Linked DNA regions of Homo sapiens: region 2 is linked to region 1. The links come from fine-mapping of genetic effects on gene expression. Tissue or cell type: nucleus accumbens. Region 1 holds a variant in brackets; the other region holds the start of a gene. All regions are shown on one strand. Distances are from middle to middle.

Region 1 (8,101 bases):
GGGCGATGATGATGGTGATGATGGTGATTATGGTGACGATGATAGTCATTCATCACTGAGGACTTATATTCTAGATACGGTTCTCAGCATTTTATACACATGATCTCATTTCATCCTCACAGTAATTCTATGAGTTAATAATTTGCCCATTTTCCTCATTTTAGAAATGAGGAAACTGGCTCAAAGCTGGTTTTCTCATTACTCCACCAGGATAAGGTGATTTGAGGCACTTCATGTTACAGAGGCTGACAGGGAGTCCCCAGTCTATTCATCGCCATCCTGCACACTCCCAGGAGCTGCCTGCGTTTCTAGCTCCTAAGAGAAGGGTAGAAAGCATGGGTTGTTTAGCTCCTCCTGGGGATTTAGCACTGTGTTCGGTGTTTCACACGCATTGTGTACTTTTATCCTCCCACCTACCCAGTGAGGCAGGTATGATTACCATCTTTATTTTATTTATCTTTTTTTTTTTTTTTTTTTTTTTTTTGAGTAAAAGTCTTGCGTTGTTGCCCAGACTGGAGTGCAGTGGCATGATTTCAGCTCATTGCAATCTCCATCTCCCAGGCTCAAGCGATCCTTCCACCTCAGCCTCCCAAGTAGCTGGGACTACAGGCGTGTGCCACCACGCCACCTAATTTTTGTGTTTTTTGTAGAGACGCGGTTTCGTCATGTTGCCCAAACTGGTCTCAAATTCCTGGGCTCAATCAACCCACTCAACTCCCAAAGTGCTGGTATTACCAGCGTGAGCCACTGCGCCCAGCCTTCATTTGAAAAGTAAAGAAACTGAGACACAGTAACGTTAAAAAGTTGCCCAGAGTCACACAGCTGGTACATTAGGGTTAAGACTCAAACTGAGGTCTTTGTGACCCTAACACCTGTGTCTTCCCTATGACCCCCTGCCCCTTCACCCCCACCCCCTGCACACATACACACTTCCTCTGACAATGCAGCAATGTACCAGGCACATGCCCAGTCCCTAGAGAATGGGTGCTGTCATCGGCTCAGGCAGTGACAGAGCTAAGAGTTGTCTTTCCCTAAGCTAAACCGCATCTGATTCCTACCCTGAGCCATAACCACAGAAAGCCCCATTTGTATCACAGTGATGTTCCAAGCTGGGACTCTGGGTACCACTGCCAAGGCTTGAATTTCAGCTGTGCACCTACTAGCTGTGTGGGCAGTTACGTGACGTGGCTGCGCCTCCATTTACTTGCTCGTGAAATGGCCATCCAGTCTCCTAGCGGCATATGAGGACTGAGTGATGGGATACATGCATGGCAGTGCTGGTCACAGTTAGCTCGTAATCGGTGGGGGCTGCTGTCATCGTCAGCCTCAAATACTGGTTGACTTCATCTGACCTAAACATGGGTAGCCACCAGGCAGGTAGGCATGTGGACCGCATAGCCTGGTTTACTTGCACCCAGGTAACATCCTCTGGAGCCTCTGCCCTGTCTCCATTTAGCAGCAAATGGGGTTTCTTTAGCCCTAAGCCCTCAGTTGGGTTGAAGCCAAGAGCCCTTTCTAGAGGCCTCCTCCTTAGAATCTGACAGTGGGCCTCGGGTCCCGGCTGCCAAGTGGCCAAGCTGCAACTCAGTCCACGCCCCTCCAACCTCAAACTCCCTGCTCTTGACCACCAGGCTACCTGCCTTTTAGAACATCCTCCTAAGAGATAAAACACGCGTCACAAACTAGGATGGAAATCCTGAAACGAATCCCCCAGGGGAATCCAGGCGGGGTAAACGTCAGGGAAATGACTTGTGGTGTTGTTGGGAGATGTCACGTGCAGCCCACAAGGTGAGGCCTGCTGGGGTCCAGTGTGTTCGGAAGGGTGGAGGATTTGCTGTGTGGTTCAGCTGGGAGGATAAGAATGTTTAGGCGGCACCTTGAAAGTCAGCTGAATACTCCTCCTGCCTGGTTTCTCAGGGTTCCTCTGATAAGGGAAGGAAAGGATTTTTTACATTTTTCTCTGCAAGCTCCGTCGTTTGTGTCTATTTCTGCAAGACTTTGTTACAAATAAAAGACTCTTCTTGCATGCATGGCAAATCACTCAACTATCCAAGATACACTGTGTCTTTAACTGAAAAGAAAGCAAGTTGCAATACAATATGCTTGGTGTGCTTTTTTTTTTTTTAAATGTCAGTATCTGAGCAAAAGAACAACCTTGAGAAAAAGACATCAAACTGTTAGGAGTATTATCCCAGCAGGGTGGGATTGCACTGGACCTTGACTTCCATTCAGTTGTTCAACAACTGTTCATTGAGGGCCCCTGTGTGCCAGCCACTGTGCAGAACATGAAGACGCAGTGGCAAACACTTCCCACATTATGAATTTCTGTAACATTTGGGTTTTTATAACCAACATTTATAACTTTTGTAAACAGAAGTATAAGAAAGACTTGTTCCTTCCCCCAAAGAGCAAAATCCCCATTATGATTACAGTTAGTCATCTAATCTAGAAATAGAAATGTGATCAAATACTGGCCTCCCCTTCAGCATCCTCAGCTACCTCTCCCCTTAGTCCTCCTCAGATCCCAACCATGATTTCATCCTTCCCCTTTGATTCCTGGGTCACACGTTGCAGCCGAGCAAAATCCCAGACTCATCCCAACAGAGCCTCCACAAATCCCTGTATTCACCAGGTCCAGTGGGCCAAGCCAATGTCAGCCCGGCCATCTCACCTCCTCCGCCATCTTGGTATCCTTGCAATGCACCTCTCCAACGCACCAACCCAACCCTGTACTCTCAAGCCTCCAAACCCTTTGAAAAGAGATTGACAGATCTAGGTCTGAATTCTGATTCTAACACTTACCAGCTCTGTAGCTTAACCTTGGGGAGCTTCTGTCGTTTCACCTATAAATATGAACATACTTCCTTACCAGGTTGTTTATAATGATTAGAAAAACGTATCAAACTCTTGGCATAGCACTGGCACGCACCAGGTCTGCTATTATTATAATATTGCTGTTCTCACGCTTCTGTGCTGGAAATCCTCCGAATGGTGCATTGCCCCACACAAGAACATGTTCTCCTCACTTCCTTTTTCTCTCTTGGCCCACCTTTTATTCCTTCCCTCCATTATCCCCACTAGGTCTTCCTCCTACATGCAGCACGTACCCTGCCCTGTCTCCCCTTTCCTCTCCTTCCCAGGGACCTTGTGCACAAATTCTTCTTTCTTTGGCGTCAGCGGCCTTTCTTTTCCTCTTAGTTCCTTCCCTTTGCCATCAAAGGGGCACTTCAAGATGGCTGTACCATCCTGAAAAAAATCATTCTTCTCTGGAATCCATCGCTTCTTTCGCTCCTTTTCAATTGCTCTTACTCCTGTCTTCACCTGTGATCTTTAAGAAGCGTGTTGCACCCTCGGTCTTCATTGCCAGCTTCTTGGCCTTTCTGCCAAGTAACTGACACGGGCCCCCTGCAGCACTGACTAGGCCACCACCCTCTCGGGGACTGTGTCTCTGACCTGCCCAACGCTCTTCATTCTCTTTTTTGAAACCCTTTAGGCGCTCTGCTTCCCTCCTGATCTTTTCCATTCATTCCCAGCAGCCCCCTTCACCAACTCCTATCCCTAACGAGGGTGTTTTCTCCTGTGCAGTCAGCCCTTGGTCCACCCCATCTCCTTTCTCATGAAGAAACTCTGCACTTCCGGGCTTCCCCAGCCACTCCTATGTGTTTTCCACACGGACGCCTCTGCAGGAGGGGCTGCCAGGAAAGTGGTGCAGGGAGTCCAGCCAAGGCAGTAGGTGGGGTCCCTGGCCAGGGGCCATGGCCACCAGGAGGAAGGGGGCCTCTTTCTTCATTCACACAAGGACCCTGGATGGGCTGGGCTGGGCCGGCATTACCGATTGGCATGTCCGGCTCTCTGCTGACCCTCCCTCCCCAGAGTCCTGCCAGTGCCTCAAATTCAGCATGTCTGAAACAGCCTGGGGGCTCCTTCTCTCTCCCTGCCACACCCCACCGCAACCCCAACCTGTCTCTCTCCCGTCTGATGACGAGGCCACCATTCTACCCCTTTAAAAGGCTTTCCCTTTCTTCCCTCTCATCCTCACTTCTCCCACCCTCAGTTAGAGGATCAGCACTGAATACCTGGGCGTCTCTCGGGCCCTTAGCGGAGCTCCCTGCCTCTCACTCAGAGGAGGGGAGCTTATCACAGGCAACATCCAGGATCGTCTGG[C/T]GACATTTTTGGTTGTCAAAACTGGGGTGGGGTGAGTAGGGGTGCCCCTGGCATCCAGTGGGTAGAGACCAGGAATGCTACTAACCATCCCACAATGCCTAAGACAGCCCCAACAGCAAAGACTTGACAATATCAGCAGTGCAATACCAGCAATACGGCCCGACATAGCAGCAGTGCTCCAGCAAAGAAACCCTGCCAGCTCCAGCCTCTCGAATGCAGCCCAGCTATTTTTCTTTAAAAAAAAAAACAACGCTCTTCATCAGGCCACTTCACTGTTCTGTCAGCCGCTGGAATAGGAGTGACTCAGACCTCGAGTCACACCAATTAGTCTTGGCTCAACCACTGGCCTGCTGTGTGGCGTTGGGCAGGCCTGCGTCTCAGAACGCCACTGCCTCATCTATAAATTGGGGACCCACTGGGCACATTTCAGTCATGTTTAAATCAAGTTTCCTCTCTCAAGCCGACGGTTTCAGGAGTGTCACGGCTTGACCTCACCCTTCCATGCCTCCTCCACTGTCTGCTCCTCCCTCTCCCATCATCTACTCCAGCCCAAGTAAGCTCAGCACTTCCCGGGAGGAGCACTGCCTTTTCCAAATCCCACCCCCACCACCCCCACATCCCGGTGTGAAACTGTGGCTTCCTGTGACTATTGTAACAAATGACCACAAGAGACTGGCTTAAAACAACACATTATTCTCTTAGCATTCAGGATTAATTCAGTTTCACTGGGCTAAAGTTCCTTCCGGAGGCTCTAGAGCAGTATCCGTTTCCTGGCCTTCTTCAGCCTCTAGAGCTTCATTCCTTGCATTCCTTGGCTCATGGCCCCTTCCTCCATCTTCAAAGCCAGCGATGTGGCATCTTCCAGTCTCTGCTTCCATCACATCACCTTCCCCTCTGTCTGTGGTCAAGCCTCCGTCTGTCTCCTTATAAGAAGCCATGTGATGACATTGGGTCCACCCAGATAATCCAGGATAACACCCCATCTCGAAATCCTTAACTTAATCGTATTTGCCAAGCTCTTTTTGCCCTGTACGGTCACACCCACAGGTTCCAGGGATTCGGACCTGGAATCGTAGGGGGTCATCATTCAGCCCCGCGCACCCCTGTTCTGAAGCGCCCTCCCCCGGCTCTCTGAATTCTGCCCACCCAACAGCATCCACACCCAGTAGTTCTTCAACCAAGTGGTCTTACTCGCTCACTCCAGGTGAATGATCTCCCCCTCCTCTGACACCCTCACCCTCCCCTCTCCTTCAGCAGTCACTCACATGCCACCTGGGGTCACTGCATGTTTCCAGCAGGCATTTACACCTTGTCTTTCGGACTGAACTGTAAGCCCCTGGAGGTCTTGGCTTTAGACCATCCCCCACACTCAGCACCATGCTTCACACACAGTAGACAGTAAATAGGTGTTCTGTTGATGGGTTGTTTTCCACCTCCAAAAAGAAAGTTGGATGTGAGCTCAACCAAGGCTTATCAACTACTTTATTTTTATTTTTATTTTTTTGAGACTGAGTCTCGCTCTGTCACCTGAGCGGGAATGCAGTGGCACAATCTGGGCTCACTGCAACCTCTGCCTTCCAGTTTCAAGCGATTCTCATGCCTCAGCCTCCCAAGTAGCTGGAATTACAAACATGCGCCACCACACCCAGCTAGTTTTTGTATTTTTAGTGGAGATGGGGTTTTATCACGCTGGCCAGCCAGGCTAGTCTCGAGCTCCTGACCTCAGGTGATCTGCCCATCTCAGCCTCCCAAAGTGCTGGGGTTACAGGTGTGAACCTCCATGCCCAGCCTAAGCCACCGTGCCCGGCTGCTTATCAACTACTTTAAAACCACAGGTTGGATGGCAGCTCACGTTGTTTTGATGGGATGGCAACGTTGCTTTCATCCACCTGTCTGCAAGCTTTGGAGTTGAATTGATACTTACATTCTTCCTGCTTCTCTTTTTTTAAGGGTTCTCTTTGTATCTGATATATCTTCTGGAACATTATAAAAAACTTATGAGCCAGGCCCAGGAACTTCAGGTAATTCTTTTAATTTCTTTTTTTCCAAAGTTCATTTCGGCCCCTGGTTGGCATTTATATAGCACTGTGCATTTGAAACCTGTTTTTTCTTTATCAGCTAGTCCAGTCCACACCCTCCAATAGGTGAAATGATTTCTTCATTTGCACACAAAGAGGTACAGAAAAGGTTGGCTAAGATCTCCCAGGAGGGTAAGGACAATGACAGGGTGCTGCCCTCTGGCCTCCTGGGCCAACCACACTGTTTGTTTTCCTCTGTCAAAGGCCCAGAAGACTTAATGCCATCAGATTTTTTTTTTTTGAGTCTCGCTCTGTTGCCCAGACTGGAGTACAGTGGTGCAATCTCGGCTCATTGCAACCTCTGCCTCCCGGGTTCAAGTGATTCTCCTGCTTCAGCTTTCTGAGTAGCTGGGATTACAGGCGCCTGCCACCATGTGTTGCTAATTTTTGTATTTTTAGTAGAGACAGGGTTTCATTATGTTGGCCAGGCTGGTCTTGAACTCCTGACCTCAAGTGATCCACCCACCTCAGCTTCCCAAAGTGCTGGGATTACAGGCGTGAGCCACTGCACCAGCCTTAATGCCATCAGATTTTGAAAACTGTGTTTACTAAATCCAGTGGACAAAGTACAGCTATCTATAGCACAGGCAGCAGAATTACTAAAAGAAAAGAAATATTCTAGAGGCAAATGAGCTTTACGGGTTATATCATTCTGATAGCTATTGCCATAATAGTATTATATAATAAACAACCACAAAACTTCAGCGGCATTCAGCAATTGCTATTTACTCCTCACGTGTCTGGGGTCAGTGGCAAGGCGGCTCTGCTGACCTTGGATGGGCCCACCCACTTGTCTGGGTGTTAGCTGGCCTTTGGTTGATCTAGACTGGCCTCAGCTGGAGTGACTCAGCTCCCTGTGTCTCTCATCCCCCAGCAAGCAAGCCTAGGCTGTTCTCATGGAGACTACGAGGTATAAAAGAAAGTGGCCCAATCACATAGTGTTTTTCAACCTTCTGCTTGTGTTATGTCTGCTAAGATCCCATTGGCCAGAACAAGTCACATGGCTGAGTTCAGTGTCTGGAGGCAAAATATGGGCGGGCACTGCAAGTTACATAGCCCTAGACATGGATAGAGTGGGGTAAAGAAGGGACCACCATGCCAATCAGCCACAGAGGCTTGAGTCCAGGGATTGGCAACTTTCTCTGTAAAGGGCCAGATGGTAAATATTTTATGCTTTGCAGACCATATTCATACCTCTTCCACTCTGCTATGGTAAAATGAAAGTAGCCATAGACAATATGTAAGCAATGGACATGATAAGCATGGCACTGTTCCAATAAAACTTTATTTACGGCGGGCACGGTGGCTCATGCCTGTAATCCCAGCGCTTTGGGAGGCTGAGGCGGGTGGATCACCTGAGGTCAGGAGTTCGAGACCAGCCTGGCCAACATGGTAAAACCCCATCTCTACTAAAAATACCAAAATTAGCCAGGTGTGGTGGTGGGCACCTGTAATCTCAGCCACTCAGGAGGCTGAGGCAGGAGAATCACTTGAACCCGGGAGGCAGAGGTTGCGGGGAACCAAGATTGTGCCCCTGCACTGCAGCCTGGGCGACAGAGCAAGACACCATCTCAAAAAAAACAAAACAAAACAAAAACACCACCTTATTTACAAAAGTATGCAGTGGGCCCGATTTGGCCTGTGGGCTGTAGTTTGTCAACCCCTGGTCTAGTCCCTTCTCCTTATTTTTCAGATAAGGACAATTTCAGTGTCACACAGCTAATGGGTGAAGAATCAAGACAAATGTTCAAGCGTCCTGGCTCCTACATGACTGCTTTTTTTCCTCACACCCACCTACCACTTACTGAACACCTACTATGTGCTCAGCACTGTGCTAAAAGCTTTCCATCATTATCTCA
Region 2 (8,101 bases), 400 kb after region 1:
CCACTCAGCATTGCTGCCTCAAGGGCCTGGGAGGGAAGGGGTGGGCCCTGGGAGGTGGGTGTGGGACTCCAGCCCCGGTGGTTCTGCCTCTGGTTTGGACTGGGCCTTGGGTGATTGAGGGTGGCCTGGCAGGAGAGAGCTGTCTGGGGGCAGAGGCCAAGGTGGGCATGTTGGTGCCAGCCCCAGACTGAGCAGACACACCTGACAGGCACAAAAACTTAGAATCAAAAGGACAAAACCCTGACTCCCAGTGAGTCTGAGGCCAAAGCTGAAAACAGAACCCAAGAAGCTTAATTCCTGACCTCAGTTCCAATCAAACAGCACGAATTGTGGTGGACCTCCAGCTGTGCTCAGATGGGGGGACACAATATTGGCAGTACCCTCTTCCTTGCCCTCCAGGCTGAGTGCCAGTGTGGGAGCGTGCTCATGAGAGCCCTGCACAAGCGGGTTTTGAGCACATGCTACGCTCTAGCCCCGTGGAAGCCTGGACTAGTTAGAGGCAGAGAACAGCTCAGGACAGACACCTCCCTGCAGAGCCAAACAGAGTGCAGCGCCTGCCTCGCTGGGCCATCCTGAGAGCTGGGGCCTTCCCAGGAAAGAGGGAGCTCGGGGGGCACCACCCCATCCTCAGCTCAAGCCCCTGGAAGAGCGGGAGAAACTAGCAGCGTGGAAGATGTTCCCAGGGAGAGATGGGGAGGGCCTGACAGGGGCTCCGTGGCCAAGGCAGAGGCAGGCCTGGTGCCCACAAGCCCTGAAGACTCCTGTGGCCCTCAGTGGCCCTCATCTGTTCTCTGCACGCCCCAACACAGGTGGACCTCCCCCACACGGCGATCCAGGAAGCCTCCAACAAGAAGAAATTCGAGGATGCCTTGAGCCTCATCCACAGCGCCTGGCAGCGGAGCGACAGTCTCTGCCGCGGCCGAGCCTCCCGAGACCCCTGGTGCTGAGGCAGAGCTGGTTGGCGTCCCTGGTGGGCAGGAAAGGAAGGCACGCCAGCCGGCAGGCACACTGTCACGGCTGTTGTCATGCTGTCGGGAGCCTACAGTCCACCCCTGCCCTGGGCGGCAGAACCACCGAGTGTGGCTTAAGACAGGGTCCCTCCACTCCAGGGATCCAGATCAGGTGCCCGGCACCCCTGGGCATCCTGCCCGACAGGTAGCGAATGGAGGTCGCTGGGGGCAGAGGGTCCGAGCCCTGTGGGCTCTGCGGATGCACGCCCTCCTCCCGGGCCTCCGCCTCAGTCTGCAGAATTTCTGCCGAGTGGCACCGAGAACACCATCCATCTAAGGACGAACAAAAGAACCAGGAGGGCGGGACCCCCCTCTTCCTCTCCTGGGTTGGGGGCTGGGGCCCTGAGTGCCCAGCCATCCTTGTTCGTGTTTGAACACTCTCCTGGCCACGTGGGGAAGCGGGAACACGGGGTGTCTGCGCATGTTTCCTCCTCCTAGCTCCATCACTGCGCACACAGCTGCCTGCCTCGCCAGATGCAGGGGGGCGGGCAGCCCTCCCTGGCTGCCAGGAGGCTCTGCATGCCCACAGTCCTGCCCTGCCTGTCCCCTCAACCCGGCAGTGCCTGTAGCACCGAGGAGCAAAGGGGGTGGATGGGGGGCTTGGAGAAGGGCGGAGCCCACCAGCCTGGCATCCATGTTGACATCTTCTGACTGTCCCCTGCTTGGCTGGAGCCAGGCCCTTCCCTAGAGTTTCGTCAAGAGCCTCCTGGGGAAGGGGTCAGGTGGTTTGGGTTTTGTTTTTTAAAATAAAATAGACATGTTATATTGCCAAGGCTTGTCACTGGCCCTTTTTGAGCAGGGTAGGGGAAGGGAGCTCTCCAAATCCCTTGGGCCCTTTTCTGCAAACCTTCCTCCATCATCTGCCCTGTGCCTGACACAAGGGACACACGGGACATGCAGAACCAGATCAGCCACCGCTGCCGGGCGGACTCACCGTCTGCAGACCCTCAGGCCCTGGGAGTTTCTCGGCCCGACCTTTGCCCTCCGTCCTGTTCCTGTTTGCTGCAGCAGCCAGGGGAGGAGCAGCCACCAGCTCAAGCCCCAGGGCACGTCTGCACCGCCGCCCACCATCTGCAGCCCACCCCGGGGCAGGACGCTCCTGCCTCCACAGCCCCGGGGGTGAGTGCCCAAACCCAGGAGAATCCAAGCTGTCCTCGCTGCCTCTTGCTGCGCCGTCCCCTCCAGGGCTGGCCAGAGGGTGACAACCCTGCCAGGCCGGGAGCCTGAGGCCCTCAAGCCACTCAGCATTGCTGCCTCAAGGGCCTGGGAGGGAAGGGGTGGGCCCTGGGAGGTGGGTGTGGGACTCCAACTTGGGTGGTTCTGCCTCTAGTTTGGACTGGGCCTTGGGTGACTGAGGGTGGCCTGGCAGGAGAGAGCTGTCTGGGGGCAGAGGCCAAGGTGGGCATGTTGGTACCGGCCCCAGCCTGAGCAGACACACCTGACAGCTGGCCCAGGTGGCGTTCTCTTCTCAGCGGGCACAAAGGGCATCCCAGGGCAGGCCTGGCAGCAAGTCCTTACCAGCCAAGGTCACTCCTCAAGTCCTACTCACCCAGGTGCCCTGAAGTCCTGGGAGCAGCGAGGGGGGCATAGGAGCCAGAGGCAGTGGGGGTGGGGGCGAGCAGGCGATGCGGGTGCCTTTATCGGGTGCAGCACTGACCTAGGCACACTCTTCTCATCGCCAGTCCTCCACAGAACCTTCTGGAGTGGATGTCAGTATCTCCATTTTACAAATGAGAGAAACTGAAGCTCTGAGAGGAAGTGACTTGCCCAGGGGTCACACATGAGAGCCACACCTGGGATTCCAATCAGCTCCCCAGGGCTCCAGAGCCCTTCTCTACTTCTGACCCTGCTGAGCATGGGCCTATAGACGGTGGGAGCCAGACTGAAGACTTGAGTCCTGGAAAGGGGAAGTCAGTCACCAGGGGCATATCAGGGGCAGGGTGGGGCAGGGGCGGAGTTGGCCGTGTACCCCATGCCAGGGACCTCCCAGTCACTTGCCCCCTGCCTAGGGCTCTGCCAAAGCTGGACAGGCTAAGCCAGAGGCAAGGCAGGGGTGCCAGCCCTTTGCCCAGGGCCAGAGGGAGGCCAGGAGGAGGTGCCTGGGCTGGTTGGCACCTTCTCCCTATCCACGCTCTCCCTCCAGTCCCAAGTGACCTTTCCCCCAGATCCCAGGGTCCAGGCCCGCCCTCGGCTGGCAGGTGTGGGCACAGAGGCAGCTGGGATTGGTCGCAGCTGGCGGAGGCGCGTCCCAGGCTCCGGCAGACCGCTGGAACAGCTGAGCAGAGCAGGTGGACTGCTGAGATAGACCAGGGACACCAGGCAGCCACAGGCCTGTCAGACCAGGACCCTTACCCTCTAGACATGGCCTCGGTCCCCTGCAAACCCCAGCCCCGTAGCCCTGCGAGGTTACAGACAGCCTAAACGCCACCACCACAGGGCCTGTGCCGTGCCCCTGACCCGGGCACAGAAGGCCACTGGCCCGGAGGCCATGGAGACGGTGCCCCCAGCAGTGGACCTGGTGCTGGGTGCTTCTGCCTGCTGCCTGGCCTGTGTCTTCACCAACCCCCTGGAGGTGGTGAAGACGCGGCTGCAGCTGCAGGGGGAGCTGCAGGCCCGGGGCACCTACCCACGGCCCTACCATGGCTTCATAGCCTCTGTCGCTGCTGTGGCCCGAGCAGACGGGCTGTGGGGCCTGCAGAAGGGGCTGGCTGCCGGCCTTCTGTACCAAGGCCTCATGAATGGCGTTCGTTTCTACTGCTACAGCCTGGCGTGCCAGGCTGGCCTCACGCAGCAACCAGGTGGCACCGTGGTTGCGGGAGCCGTGGCGGGGGCACTGGGAGCCTTCGTGGGGAGCCCTGCTTACCTGGTGAGTGGCTTGTCTCCATCGTCCACCCTCCACCATCCCATGACCCAGCTCCCACAGGGGCCCTGCAGCCTCCAAAGGCAGGGCTCAGTGGACCTGGGTGGGGTGGGGCAGCCGGGGTGGGGCTGCTCCCTGGAACATCCTAGCCCAAGCCTGGAATCTGCCCCTTGGCCCAGGGCCTTGCTCTGATCCATGCTCCCCTGCGGTCCCTGCCCCACTGGTCCTGAGCCAGGGGAGGGGGCAGAGGGTGTCAGATGTGCTGGCTCAAATCCTGGCTTGGTTACTTCTCTTCCCGCATGGCCTCATGTACGATAAGAATAAAAGCTACCCTTGAGGGCCTCCGCCTCGTGTGCACTCTGCAGGGGGGCCTCAGGGCCACCCAAAACAAATAAAAAATTAAAAAATGTTTTGAAGAAAGCTACCCTTGGCTGGGTGCAGTGGCTCACGCCTGTAATCCCAGCACTTTGGGAGGCCGAGGCGGGCAGATCACCTGAGGTCAGGAGTTTGAGACCAGCATGGTCAACATGGTGAAACCCTGTCTCTGCTAAAAAGTACAAAAATTAGCTGGGCGTGGTGATGCATGCCTGTAATCCCAGCTACCGGGGAGGCTGAGGCAGGAGAATCACTTGAGCCCAGTTGGCAGAGCTTGCAGTGAGCCAAGATCATGGCACTGTACTTCAGCCTGGGCAACACAGCAAGACTCTGCCTCAAAAAAAAAAAAAGGAAAGAAAGAAAAAAAAAGCTCCCCTTGAGCAAAGGCTCGCCTTGCCCTTGGCTGGTGCTGGAGGATCATTGTCTCACTTAATCCTCAGAACAGCTTTCCAACCGTGACAGAATTGAGGCCCAGAAAAGGTTAAGTAACTTGCTCCAAGTCACACTGAGACGCAAAACCCAGGCCAACCCCAGAGCTGCACCTCAACCCTATTTCACTTGACCCCTAAGCTTCAGGCTCGGGACCATGGAGCTGTGAGTTTCAGGGGCACGGGGGCAGGGCGCCCTCAACACACACAGCTCACCCTGGCTCTCCCAGGCTCCATCCCCACACCCGTGTCCTCTCTGCTCCCATAGATCAAAACGCAGCTGCAAGCTCAGACAGTGGCCGCAGTGGCCGTGGGACACCAGCACAATCACCAGGTGAGGCCTGCCACTCTCAGAGCTCCCTGGGGGCATGGATTGGGCATGCTCCCAGCCTAGGCAGGGGTGGCCAGTGACCCCGTGCCCTCTCCCCACAGACTGTCCTGGGTGCCTTGGAGACCATCTGGCGGCAGCAAGGGCTCTTGGGGCTGTGGCAGGGCGTTGGTGGGGCTGTGCCCCGAGTCATGGTGGGCTCAGCTGCCCAGCTGGCCACCTTCGCCTCTGCCAAGGCCTGGGTACAGAAGCAACAGGTGAGGAGCTGGGGACACCTGTGCCTATCCACAGAGACACACCGGACTGAGGGGGGCCACCTGCCTCCTTCCACACGGGGAAGACCAGGGGGTGGCAACAGATGGGGCCCTGCCTCTGCCCTCAGAGTCGTGACTCCGGCCCTTGGTACCAGCAGGAGTGTGGGGTCAGCAGTGAACCCCAAAGCTGAGAAGGAGCTCAGGGTGGCAGGGCTGGGGGATGGCTGGAGGGGCCTCATCTGCTCCCCTTTCTGTAGCCCTTTTAGCCCCTGTGTGGTAGGAGGCCGGGAGGGCACGACGTGGGTGGGTAGAGAGCTGTTGCAGGGATCAGCACCTGTGCCATCCCCACAGTGGCTCCCTGAGGACAGCTGGCTGGTGGCCCTGGCTGGGGGCATGATCAGCAGCATAGCCGTGGTTGTCGTCATGACTCCCTTCGATGTGGTCAGCACGCGGCTATACAATCAGCCGGTGGACACAGCTGGCAGGGTGAGCAGGGGCGGGTCTAGGGGAGACCGTGGGGAGCTGGGAGCACCCCCCCAACACACACACACACACACACACTCTCACACACTCACACTCACACATGCACAGCCAGAGACACGCAGACACAGGCCAGGTATGCAAACACATTAACTGGGCTTGTTTGCTGAGCCCCCGGGTCCCAGGCACAGGCTAAGCACTTTCACATCTGGATTTTATTCCATCCTTATAATCACATTCATCTTCCTGATGAGGAAGCTGAGGCTCAGACAGATCAACTGACTTGCATGAGTTCCCCCAGCTGGTAAGGGGAGGAGCCAGAACTGGAATTCAGGCCTGACCCCACAGCCTTCCCATGGCGCCGCAGCCTCACAGGTGTGTCCAATACAAAGGTGCTGTCCATAGGGTGTGTGGGGGTGAAATTGACCCGTGTGCCAAGATGTGGTGCCAGCCAGGGCCTCAAGGCCCCTGTAGTAACACTCACCCCATGTCTTTCCCCAGGGCCAGCTCTATGGGGGCCTCACCGACTGCATGGTGAAGATCTGGCGGCAGGAGGGCCCCCTGGCACTCTACAAGGGCCTGGGCCCCGCCTACCTGCGCCTGGGCCCCCACACCATCCTCAGCATGCTCTTCTGGGACGAGCTTCGGAAACTGGCTGGGCGGGCCCAGCACAAGGGCACCTAGACGACGGCCCTCACCCCCACGTCCTGACACGGCCGGCACTTGGCCGGAAGTGAGAGCCTGCTCCAGGACAACTGGCTGTCCCGGGGCGGGCCATGGGCCCAGGCCCTGCCAGAGGTCCCGGGAGAGTGTGGACAGCTCTGGTCCATCCAGCCCCTTGGCCCACCCAGGTCCAGAGCATCCACTTCAAGTTACCACCCATTCTGTCTTCCAGACAGTTCTCTTCCTTCTCTGTACTGCGTACTGGGTCACCACATCCCAGAGCCTTGCTCAGTTATAGCAACTGCTGCGGGCGTGCACATGGCATAGGCCCAGTAACTTACATACATCGGCTCACTTAGGCCTCAGACAGCAGCACGAGGCAGGCACTTTTACTTCTTTTACCATTAGAAAGCCAAGGCCTAGAGTGGTGGGCTTTGACCACAGCCACACAATTTTGAAGTGGCAGAGCCAGGACTGGAGCTTAGCCCTGCTCACCCTAGACCTATGCGCTTGACAAGTGCGTGACTGTGACAGGCCCATGGGCCCGGACTGCCCATAGGGGTCACTGTACCATGGCAAAGGCTGAGGTGCACCAGGAGGCTGTGGCGTCGTCACCTGCCTTATTTGCTGGAGAAGCTGTAGCAAAGAACCACAGACTGGGCGACTTAGACAATAGAAATGTATTTTCTCACAGTTCTGGAGGCTGGATGCTGGAGACCAAGGTGTCAGTGGGCTGGTTTCTTCTGAGGCCTCTGTCCATGGCTTGCAGATGCTGCTTTCTCTCTGTGTCTGCACATGGTGGTCCCTCGATGTGCGTCTGGGTCCTGATCTCCTCCTCTTATAAGGACACAAATCATGTTGGCTTAGGGCCCACCCTCATGACCCCACTTTAATTTTTTTTTTTTTTTTTGAGATGAAGTCTCACTCTGCCACCCAAGCTGGAGTGCAGTGGCACGATCTCGGTTCACTGCAACCTTGGCCTCCTAGGTTCAAGCAATTCTCCTGCCCCAGCCTCCTGAGTAGCTGGGATTACAGGTGTGTGCCACCACACCCGGCCAATTTTTGTATCTTTAGTAGAGATGGGGTTTTGCCATGTTGGCCAGACTGGTCTCGAACTCCTGACCTCAAGTGATCCACTGGCCTTGGCCTCCCAAAGTGCTGGGATTACAGGCATGAGCCACCTCACTTGGCCCAATTTTAACTTAATTATCTCTGTCAAGAGCCTATCTCCATATACAGTCACATCCTGAGCTACTAGGGGGTAGGACTTCAACATGCACTTCTGCAGGGGCCGCAGTTCAGCCAACATCATCTTTTTTTTTGAGATGGAGTCTCGCTTTGTTGCCCAGGCTGGAGTGCGGTGGTGCAATCTCGGCTCACCACAACCTCCACCTCCCAGGTTCAAGTGATTCTCCTGCCTCAGCCTCCCGAGTTGCTGGGACTATAGGTGTGCGCCACCATGCCCAGCTAATTTTGTATTTTTAGTAGAGACAGGCTTTCGCTGTGTTGGCCAGGCTGGTCTTGAATGCCTGACCTTGCCGCCCGCCTCGGCCTCCCAAAATGCTGGGATTACAGGCGTGAGCCACCGCGCCTGGCCTCAGCCAACATCATCTAAGGGCTCTCACGGAGGGCCTCCCAGCTGCCCGCCCTGTGGGCATTTGCACATATCCTGACAAGCCTGAAAGAAGCTCCGGGTGCCCATT

Evidence for each region. PIP is the estimated chance that this variant, and not a neighbour inherited with it, causes the effect.
Region 2: SLC25A34 starts here. The variant in region 1 is fine-mapped to the expression of SLC25A34 in nucleus accumbens (GTEx, PIP above 0.99).

What each region holds. Positions count from the first base shown.
Region 1 is chr1:15,333,367-15,341,467 of GRCh38, forward strand. It overlaps FHAD1 (forkhead associated phosphopeptide binding domain 1), which reads left to right. Exons shown (of 34, transcript NM_001391957.1): 15 at 6,115-6,185. All of the region lies in intron 1 of FHAD1-AS1 (FHAD1 antisense RNA 1), which reads right to left. LOC124903851 (a long non-coding RNA gene) reads right to left here and starts at 7,560. Exons shown (of 3, transcript XR_007065480.1): 1 at 7,014-7,560; 2 at 5,430-5,597; 3 at 1,158-5,087. The variant C/T (reference allele first, on the strand shown) is at 4,165.
Region 2 is chr1:15,732,988-15,741,088 of GRCh38, forward strand. It overlaps SLC25A34 (solute carrier family 25 member 34), which reads left to right and starts at 3,271. Exons shown (of 5, transcript NM_207348.3): 1 at 3,271-3,876; 2 at 4,942-5,007; 3 at 5,106-5,258; 4 at 5,607-5,741; 5 at 6,237-8,101. The coding sequence starts at 3,499. The coding sequence ends at 6,419. It overlaps PLEKHM2 (pleckstrin homology and RUN domain containing M2), which reads left to right. Exons shown (of 20, transcript NM_015164.4): 20 at 810-1,782. The coding sequence ends at 947. SLC25A34-AS1 (SLC25A34 and TMEM82 antisense RNA 1) reads right to left here. Exons shown (of 2, transcript NR_149050.1): 2 at 7,064-7,235. RefSeq lists enhancers at 1,605-2,370, 2,371-3,137.